Regions from separate parts of the Homo sapiens genome. Here region 2 is linked to region 1. Evidence: fine-mapped expression QTL. A gene starts in region 1. The other region holds a variant in brackets. All regions are shown on one strand. Distances are from middle to middle. Region 1 holds the start of CACNA1I (calcium voltage-gated channel subunit alpha1 I). Region 2 overlaps CACNA1I (calcium voltage-gated channel subunit alpha1 I).

The links. PIP is the estimated chance that this variant, and not a neighbour inherited with it, causes the effect.
Region 2: its variant is the best candidate, but not a certain one, in a credible set for the expression of CACNA1I in whole blood (TOPMed, PIP 0.67).

Annotation. Positions count from the first base shown.
Region 1 is chr22:39,567,749-39,572,959 of GRCh38, reverse strand. It overlaps CACNA1I (calcium voltage-gated channel subunit alpha1 I), which reads right to left and starts at 2,207. Exons shown (of 37, transcript NM_021096.4): 1 at 1,972-2,207. The coding sequence starts at 2,207.
Region 2 is chr22:39,673,157-39,678,367 of GRCh38, reverse strand. It overlaps CACNA1I (calcium voltage-gated channel subunit alpha1 I), which reads right to left. Exons shown (of 37, transcript NM_021096.4): 29 at 4,335-4,405; 30 at 949-1,027; 31 at 260-381. Among named protein-coding and RNA genes, the nearest start is that of CACNA1I, 110 kb to the right of the region's middle. The variant G/A (reference allele first, on the strand shown) is at 2,828.

The DNA.
Region 1 (5,211 bases):
CATGGTGAAACCCCATCTCTACTAAAAATACAAAAATTAGTAGGGCATGGCGGTGGGTGCCTGTAGTCCCAGCTACTCGGGAGGCTGAGGCAGGAGAATTGCTTGAACCTGGGAGGCGGAGGTTGCAGTGAGCCGAGATCGCGCCACTGCACTCCAGCCTGGGTGACAGAGCGAGACTCCATCTAAAAAAAAAAACTAGCCAAATGGGTGGTCCCTGCTTCCCTCTTCCCCGGGCACTCCCTGGGACAGACACCAGCTCTGCCTCTTTGTCCTCAGTGTCCCAGGGCAGATGTCAGTGAGTGCTGGGTGAACTAATTACCGAGCAGACCCTCTCACCAAGCCTGAGACGCTGTGAGCCGTCCCCCAGAAGGAGCAGGGAGGCTCTTAGCCCCCACCCAGCAAGGAACACCCAGTTCTGCATCCCACTCCAGCAGAGACCCGCTGGTTTCCAAAAGTTAGGGGGATCCAGGGCCCACGATCACCTCAGCCCCCTACAGAAGGGAAGCCTGGCAGTCCTGCAGCCAGTCTCAACATCCCAGCCTGCATCTGGCATCCCTGGATTCCAGGGCAGGACTCAGGCCTGCACCTGACCCACCAGCTCCCCGCACCCTGCCCTGTGTGGCCACAAGCACCAGAACCTCGAGCCACATATGGGCATTTTTTGGTGGGACCCTCAAACCACAAGGCCACCATGGCTTGGGTCCCCAAGCCTCCTCCTCAGTGGTCCCCAGCCCCCACTTCACCCTGCAAGCCAGTGCCACACAGTCCTTCCAGAGCACAGATCTCTCCAGACCCTGCTTCAAATCCTGCCCTTGGAGCACAGTCCCATCCCTCATGCAGCCTCCAAGGCCCTGCAGGGCTCCCGCCACACCTGCAGCCTCACCTCACTCCTCTCTGCCCCTCAGGGCTCCAACACTGCCTGCAACTCCTCCCTTCTCCAGGCTTCGCTCCTGCCATGCCCTCCTCCTGCCTCCCACTACCCTCTCTACCCAACCAACGCTCTTCCTTATTGAGGAGTCAGCTCTGGCATTGCCCATGTACACCCAGCAAACACTGCCAGAGCACCCACGATGTGCCAAGCACTGTGCCAGGTGCTAGGGTCCCCATCCCAGTCATCTGACAGTACCCCAGGGGAGGCAAATGTTAGATTCAGAATTCCACAGTTAGATGTGACAGTTAGATATGAAGCAGAGGAGGAATCCCAGAGGGCTTCCCTGAGGAGGTGATGCTTAAGCTGGGATTTTAAGGATGTAGCAAAGGATTTGGCCAGGTCCAGGGGGAAGGGAAAAGCTTTTCAGACAGGGGGAAGAGCCAGTGAGAGGACCCTGAGGCTCAGAAGAGCACAGGGGGGAAGCCAAGTGGTGGGAAGTGAGGCTGGGTGGAACACACAGGCCCTGATGGGTTGGATTAGGACTTTGCTCTGCACCTCCAGGACCATAGCAAATCATGACAGTCTTAAGCAGGGGGAACATGAGCCCACTGGAGGCAGCAAGTGGAGGCAGGAGGCCTGGGAAGAGGCTGCTCGGAGGCACAGTAAGGAGAATGAGTCCTGCCCTGTGTGTTGGGATCGGCTGCCCCGCTGCCCACGCCCACAGTTCCTGATCACGGCTCCCATCCTCTGTATGGTCACGGCCCATCAGGTGGCTCCAGAGTCTGACTGATCTGCATTCCCAGCCCAGCACAGGTCTGGGGCCCACACTCAAGGACTTTCTGAGCCAGCCAGCCACTGGACTGACCCCACAGCCACCAGCAACTTCCAGAACCTTCACATCAGCAGAACACCAGGTCCTCATCCATTTGAGGTCTCCCCAGACCCACCCTCTGAGCTCGCTCACCACCACCAAGGCCCAGTGGCCTCACCGCAGACCTCAGGTCTCCCAGCCGGAGCAAGGTGTGAGCAGCAGGACTCAATCCAGCCCCCCACCCTTCAGCCCCTGCAGGGCCCCGATCAGCCGAGGCTGCGGAGGATATGGGTTGCACACCATCTTGATGCACCAGTTCCGGGGGCTGGTGGTCTGTCGCAGGCAGAAGAAGGCAATAGGCGCCAGGTCTGGGTGTGGGACATGAGGATCAGCTCCATCCAGAGGCTCCTCCAGGCCTGGCGGGGAGGATGGGGGGCTCCGGGGTCCGGGCTGCTCCGTGGTGACTCCTGGCTCAGCGGCTGGGGCTGCTGCAGATGAGGAGGGCGGGGAGGCGCTCTCAGCCATGTCCACACTGAGCTGGGAGCCCTGGGGAAGACAGAGAGGGTGGCACGTGGTGGGGACAGGCCTGGTACATGCTCCCCAACCTGCCTCTCCACCAATAAGTGGACGGATGCAGCTCTGACAGCCCCACCTGAGCCCCACAGGCCCCTCACCCTCACTCTTGCATGAGGATTACGAAACAGCTGAGGGCCCAGCTGCACCCAACTTGGAATCTGCTTCCAAGCTGGGTGATCATGGGGCAAGTCTGCTCACCCTGGCTGAGCCTCAGTTTTGGCAAACGAAGATAGTGGGGAGAATAAAGCCTTCTTAGAATATAATTGTGATATTAACTCTTTTTTTTTTGTCTATTGGCAATTTTCTGTATTTGAAATCTTTCATTATTTAAGAGAAAAAATGTTTAAGTAATTATAGACAGAAAAGAAAGACGGAAGGGAGGGAGAGAGGGAGAGAGGGAGGGAGGGAGGGAAGAAAGGAAGGAAGGAAGGAAGGAAGGAAGGAAGGAAGGAAGGGATCTTAACTTTTTTACAAGACTAGAGCTATGTATTTATTGCACCATCAAAGGTAAAGAAAACTTGCAAGAAAAAAGAGGTGATTGTAAAGACAGACATTATTGCCAGGACAATGCAGGTTACAAAGGCAATGTTGGGGTGCTGCAGAATCAGAGACTGGGGGAACGCTGGCAAGCCAGGAGGGAATCACAGTTGGCTTCCCTGAGGAAGTAACCCCTGAGCTGAGACCTACAGCTGAGCCCTTGACCCAGGGACCTCCCAGCCACTGCCTTACAAGGCTGAGAACCCAGGAATCTTAGAGTCTAACCTCCTTGCCTTACAGATGAAGAAACCGAGGCCCAGAGAAGGGACAGGACAGACATGTAGCAGAGTAACAGCAGAAATAGAATTCCAGTCAAAGGCCAGGCACGTGACTCACACCTGTAATCCCAGCACTTTGGGAGGCCAAGGTGGGTGGATCACCTGAGGTCAGGAGTTTGAGGCCAACCTGGCCAACATAGTGAGACCTCATCTGTACTAAAAATACAAAAATTAGCTGGGTGTGGTGGCACACGCTGTAATCTCAGCTACTCGGGAAGCTGAGGCATGAGAATCACTTGAACCCGGGAGGTGGAGGTTGCAGTGAGCCAAGATCACACCACTGCATTCCAGCCTGGGCAACAGAGCAAGACTCTGTCACCAAAAAAAAAAAAAAAAAAGAATTCCGGTCAGAGCCCGCTTCCTGGGTCTGTGGCTCAGGCAGCTGCACAGGGCCCCGTGCTCAGAAGGGCCCTGAACTTGCTTTAGAATTCTTCTGTCACCAACATGAAATTCTTAATTGCTTATCAAGAGGTCCCACATTTTCATTTTGTTCTAGGTGATGCAAATCATCTTGCTGGCTCCGACTCCAACTCAAAGCACTTCTACTCCCTGGCCTTGTCTGATGCTCACAACAACCTCAGGAGGACTATTATGCCCATTTGGCAGGTGAAGAAACTGAGGCCAAGAGAACAAAGCGGGTTGTCAAGGCTATGCACCCAGCCAAGTGAAGCACTAGGTGGTGTTGAGAGGCCAGAATCCCAGCACCAGACCCCCAGGCGGGCTTCATGACAACTGATGGTGCCCTCGCTGGCCGAGAGCCTCCGCAACCAGTCAATGGCAAGATGGGACGGACAGCCACTCCCAGGGCCTGCCCCTCACCACCTCACCCCAAAGGGTACTAGTCCCTAAAACTTTGTCCACTGGGGTCCCTGGGATCCTAGAACCCCTACAGGGCCAGTCTGAGCCGTGGGATTGAGAGATGGGGTCCACGTCCCTGGTGCCCACCCAGCTGCTGCTGGGCTGTCGACCAAGCCACCCGGAGCTGATGCATTTGGACATTTCTCTGGCTCCCGGGGGCAACGGGCAGGGGTTGGCACCTCCTGCCACTTCCCCTGGCTGGTCAGGGAGGCGGAGTTTTCTCCTGAGCTCAGGGCTTTGCTCTTGATTCCAGAAAAACAGCCACGGGCCTTACATAAGCTCCCAGGCACCTTGGCCTGCCACGTGTCAACCTCCTGGGCTGAAACGCACCCTCCCTAGGGTGGTTCCAGCTCTGCCCACCACCGTGCCAGCCTCGGAGCCCACCACTCCCTCCCCTGGCCATTTGCTCTGGCCAGATTGGACCTCCTCAGGTCCTAGGCCCTGCTCCCGCTCTTCCCTCTCACTGGGGCACCTTCTCCTTCCGCCCAGGCCCTGTTCTCCCAGGCCCTACTGATTCATTCATTTGCCCAATGAGCACCTACTATGTGTGGGCACTGTGTGGGCTTCGGGCTATGCTGGGGCACGAGCCAGACTCAGCACCAGCCCCCATTCAGCCCACACTTCCGCAGAGGAGAGAGACACACCGATCAATTAATTTCTCTCTTTCTGCTTTTCCACAACTCTTATCACCATCAAACACGGTGCATAATTTATGTCTTTATATCTCCATGATTTGGTGTCTGTCTCCCCAGCCTAAGAGAAGCCTGTAAGGGAGGTGTATCCCCTCACTGCTGTATCCCCAGCACCTGGAATGGTGCCTGGAGCATACTAGGTGCTCAATCGATATTTGTTGACTCAGTGAATAAAAAGTGCTGGGAAGTAAATAAACAAGGGGAAAGGTGGGAGTGGAGACAATCATCTTGCCCTCTCTAAAGGAAGAGATGTTTAAGTGAAAACCAAGACGCGGGAGGCCGCAGCCCTGACTGATCTGCTGGAAGAGCACAGGAGGAAGAGCACGTGCGAAGGCCAGGAGAATGGGGCCCGCTCGGTGCATTTAAGGAACACAAGCGAGGCCGAGCCTCGGGCAGGGAGGCGGATGAAACCAAAGAGTTCAGCAGGGCCCTGGGGGAGAACACAGAGGAGCGTGGGTTTTATCCCAAGTTCAGTAGAAGCCACAGGTGGGTTTTAGGCAGGGGAGTGGTGTGCTCTGGTCTGTTTCTAAGCCATCTCTCCAGGGGCTGAAGGGAGAGTGGATGAAGGGGAAGGGGTGGAGCAGGAAG
Region 2 (5,211 bases), 110 kb before region 1:
GGTGGAGTTGTCTACCCTAGAATCTGAGCCCTGATCCCAGGCAACACTGGGGGATGAGGCAGTGTAGACAGGGGGCCTGTTCTGGCTCAGCTCTCCCCACTGTGCTGGTCCTGGGCAGGCCCCTCCACTCCTCCGTGCCCTGCATGCCCCTCCCATGTGTGGTGGGGCCCTGGGTGGGCAGAGCCCTGAGCAGCAGGACCAGCATCCTCACTGTCCCAGCACCTGGCTGATTTCTCCACCCCAGCCCGCCCAGGAGTACCTTCATGATCCCGTTCCAGTTGTCACCCGTGGAGACCTGGAAGAGTGTGAGGAAGGCCATGCCGAAGTTCTCGAAGGTGGCATGCCGGCTCATGCCCTCGCACGGGTTCTCGTCGTTGCAGACTGGAAGCGGGGAGGAGGTCAGCCCTGCCCGATGGCGGAGTGCCTGCGGGGCTCACCCTGACCTGGTGCCTCCCGCCTCGCCTCAGAACCCTCATCACACCCTAGGAGGGGCCTGCAGACTGTGCCCAGCCCACAGATAAACTGAGGCTCGGGGAGATGGCACATGAGCTGGGGCTCAGGTTTGGGTGAGTCTGGCTCTGCTCCCCGCCGAAGAATGGGTTTCTGAGAAAGAGGGTGAAATGGGGTGAGGGCCAGCCCCTCGGGGAACCCTGCTTTCTGGAGCCATCCCGGTGCAGGGCGGAGCTCAGCGAGCGCTCTGTTGCTCTTTCCCCTGCCCTGGCCTCTCCACTTGCTGGGGTGGCGCTGGCTCAGGACAGGCACCAACACCGGGGTAGGGAGGGCAGTTTTCCTGGGAGACCAGACAGCTGAGGGCCCTGCTGTAGGCATCTCCCCAATACAAAGACCCTGATGTGACGGGCTCAGGGGTCTCAGGCCTCCCCCGCCCCCCCAGTTCCTCCTGCAGCCCTGCTGCACCCCCACCACGGGCCTGCTCTGGGAGTCACTCACCCAGCTTCCCAAAGAGCTCCACCCCGAGAGCAGCATAGATGAAGAAGAGCAGCATGAAGAGGAGGCCCAGGTTGCCCACCTGCGGGAGGACAGGTGAGGCCGGGTGGGGCTGGGGAGCGGGTGGGGGCGCACCAGGCCTGGGAAGGGTGGAGGCTGGGGCAGTGGGGTTGGGCAGCCTGTGGGTCAGAGCAGCTGTAACATTCCCCCAGGCTGTGTGTCCACGTCTGCCACCCCTACAGGACCTGGAGGGCAGGCTGGGTCCAGCACAGGGCTCAGAATAACAAGAAAACACTTGTGCCACCTTTACCACAAGCTGTCCCATTTCCAGCACTTAAGGTTCATGAGCTCACTTCCTCCTCACAATAATCCACGAACTATCTTTTATCCCCATTCTTCAGAAGAAGAAGGAGACAGACTGAGAGGTGACATCACTTGTCCAGAGTCGCACAGCTAGTAACTGGTAGGACAAGGGTCCAAACCCAGCAGGCTGGCCCCAGGGTCCATGCACACAATCTATGCTACACGCCTTGAGTGGCTACCAAGGTTGAATGGATGGATGAACGAAGGGAAGGGAGAAGGCAGGAGGTCTCAGCTCTAACACTAGCTCCTCTACGAAACCACCGAAATGCACTTATCCCTGTCACTGTCATCTGCTGGTCTGGGAAATCTTCAAGAGCAGGAACACAGCTGCATGAGGTCAGATTTGCCTCCTTGGGCCAGCATGAGGCCTGGCCATAGAGAGGAGGGAAGGCAGGAATCACGCAGGCCCGTGGGCCCCAGAAGCCTCTGCAAACCCAGCCACCCCCATCCCACAGCTCCTGTGGGAGAAAGCGTCCCAGATTCCAAACCTAGTTCAAATCTATCCATGCATTGGAGACCACCTTTAACTCATGCTATGGATAAGATAAGGCTAAAACACATTCTTGCCCTAGAAATGAAATATCTCTTAGAACCCTCAGAAGGCCTTAGAACCCTCAGAAAACGTTCACGTTAACTGCTGAAAAGTAAACCCCATTAATCACCACTCCTCGAGTTTCTCCGCTCCACTCCAGAGCAGGGTTTCCTGGCCAGCCGTTCTACACTGCTAGTGTCTGACTAATTAAATGATGTTCCCTTCATTAATAAAACAAGCACTTACTGAGCACCCGTGAGGCCAACTGTAAGGCCCTGACCGCTGAGAAGGATCTGGCGTGGTCGCGGCTCTAGGAATTCAGCTTTGTGCCCTGCACAGGCCGGCGGGGGCAGCATCTCTTAACCAGGATTGCCGTCAGCTTTTCTATCTGTCCCCTCCCTGCTGTCAGCATCTCAGAGCCGGCAGGGTTGCAGCAGCCTCCTCACCAGCTTCCCTGCCTCCAGCCTCTCCCTCCAATCCATTCTCCTCCCAGCCAGCAGAGCCACCTTCTCAAAGGCAGCTCGGCTGCAGCCTTCCTTGTCTAGAACCCTCCTGTGGCACCTGCTGCCTGCAAGATAAAGCCCAATTCTGCTGCCCTAGCACTGAAGGTGTGCTGTGACCTGGCCCCCAGGGACCCCCCTCCCAGCCTGATCTTCCAATCCCACACACTCCAGCCACACAGAAAACAGCCCCACAGTGCCTTGGCATATTATTTTCCCTCTGCAGGGAGGACCCTCTATCTTTGCCTGTAAAATGCCTCCTCCCCACCCCTCAAAGCCCAGTCCATGGGTCACCTCCCCTGAGAAGCCTTCTCTGATGCCTCCTCCCTCTTCTTGGGGCAGAGACTGGTGGGAAGAGGCTGAAGTTTCATTTTCCTAGCACTTTACGTAGAATCGAGGAAATGGCCAATGTCCATACAACAACATGAGCAACAGCAAATGGATTTTGAGGGGTAAGCACCATTTCACGGCCAGTGGCACTTGGCAC[G/A]TGCTTCTTCTCAAGTGCTAATGCACTTGTAATGACTACCTTGGGTCTCCTGCTGGAGGCTGGGATGTCCTGAACATCTCCATGTGCCGTGCCCCATGCCAGCTCCACACTGGATTTGGGAGTCATGATAGAACCGCCCAGGGGTCAGAGCATGGGGAAGGGGAGAGGGAGCAAGGAGGCCAGGGAGGCCGAGCCACACACTCACCATCCCCACCCCTAGCAGCCTCTTAAATGGCACTTCTCATGAACCAGACCTCTTAAGTGCTTCATAAGCTTTAACCATCTGACACCTCACCGCCGCCCTTTGAAATAAGCGCTTGAGGGAGCGATGCTTCACCACCATCCTCATTTCACAGGCAAGGAAACTGAGGCACGAAAAGCTAAGTCGCATGCCCAGGGCCCAGGCTTTGCTCTCAAGCATTATGGCCCAAGCCGGGGCTCCAATCTACTTCCTGTCGGCACAGCCTGCAGCCCAGCATCACCCCCATCTCCCATGGGACAAAGTCCCCTGAAGGGGTTTAGTGTTAGGAAAAACCACGTCTCTGAATGAATGCCCTTGCTTTCCATCCAGACCATGCCACTTTCCCTTTATACCAAGGCTGCTGGGAAGCTCACACCAAATTCAGGAACAGAACTCACCCATGTCCTTAGCCCCGGTCCCCGAAAGAATTAGCTCTGCTTCCACCTTCCCTGGGCCATTAATCTTGTATCCTCATTTTTAATGTGCAGTATCTGTGCCTTGTATTTTAAGGCACCTAAACTTCCTGATGACTCGTTGAGTCATAATGAATAAATGTGCCTGAGGCTCAGCTGAGAGCAGAGGCCACCCTGAGGGGAGGGGGAAGGGGAGCCTCAAGCAGTCAAGACAGCGGGGGAGGGAAGGACTGGGATTGCAGAATTCTCGGGAGGATGAAAAAGATGCCCTCTGTGGCCCTGATCACATCTCCCCTTTCACTAACCGCAGGGTGCGGGTAGAGCAACTTCCCTAACTTCTCAGATCCCCACCTGGGTCAGGGTCTCATGCTGCCCCTCCTGGAATGCCATCTCGGAACTTCTCCATCCACACTGCCACCTCCTTCTGCCAAGCCACCCTTGGAAGTCAAGCTCAAAGGTCCCCTTTCCTAGGCTGCCTTCCCTGATCTCCCCAGGGAGTGTCTGGCACTCTTCTCTCTCTCTGGAGCATGCTGGAGGTCCCTCCCCACATCTCCCTGAAGTATCCATCTCCCTCCACCAGCCTGGGGGCAACCAAGGGCACAATGTGGACCCTCAGTGCGTGCACAGGGCTGGACACAGAGTGGCACTGGCAACCACATGGTGAAACTGGAAGAAAGAGGCATAAAGGGACCCTTCCTGCCTCTCAGCCCCTGGCTCAAAATGCATCCCCAGAGACAGCATCTGCCCTGGCTCTGGCAGATGTGAGGAGAAGGGAAATCAGGGCCTTCATGCCCCAGGGCCCAGCCTGACACCAATGACCCCTAGGAGGGCTGCCAGAAAGAGTGGCTCTTACCTGGGGCAAAGCTTGCACCACCGTGTCCAGCAGGGCCCGCATTCCTGTGGCCATCTTCAACAGCTTCAGCACTGCGGGCGAGACCCAGCCCTGCCCACTCAGCCCCAGGCCGGTGGGGACGTGTGTGTGCACGCATGTGTGCACGTGTGTAAACTTGGGAGAAGAGAACATGAAGGCACGTGCAAGCAGAGTCTGGCTCTCAGATACCACATTACAAGAATGTGGGTGCAGCCACAGGGTGAGTGGGGCATGCACAAAAACATGTGGACACAAGGCGTGGGTGTCACTGTAGAAAAGCCCCCGAGGACGGGGCATACTCATGGAAACTGAGGTCTATGAAGTGTGTGAATGGGTGGGCCATGAACTGTCACGGGCACAAAGGACCAGCGTGAGTGGCCACATCTCTTCTCTTCCCCTCTCGATAAAGAGGACTCTGGCATCACTCGCTGAGTTTCTGGCAGGCAGAAGAGCAAGAGGCACCTGGGCTCGCCCTGAGGCAGGAGGCTTTTAAAAGAAGTGTACGAACTACCTTGAGGGGAGGGAGAAGGATCTCTGAAGACCGTGCGTCCCAGTCACTGTGTTTGAGAAATGCCAGCGAGGAACTGGAGGTGTTTCACATCTTCCCAGTTGGACTGGGTTCCTTGCATCACACTCTGAGACTGGACCCCATGGGTCATGGCGTCATAAGGAAGTGGGAGTGTGTGTCCATGTGTGCTATGCAAAGTTGCCTGTGTGTTGGGGGAGGTGTGTGCACACAGAGGGTGCATGCGTGTGTGTTGGCTGTGTGCCTCCCAGCTCCTTCTCACCCCTGTTCAGCAAGGAGCCCACCATGCCTGCAAACTCCTGCCCCCACCCCTCCCCACCCCACTCCTGTGTG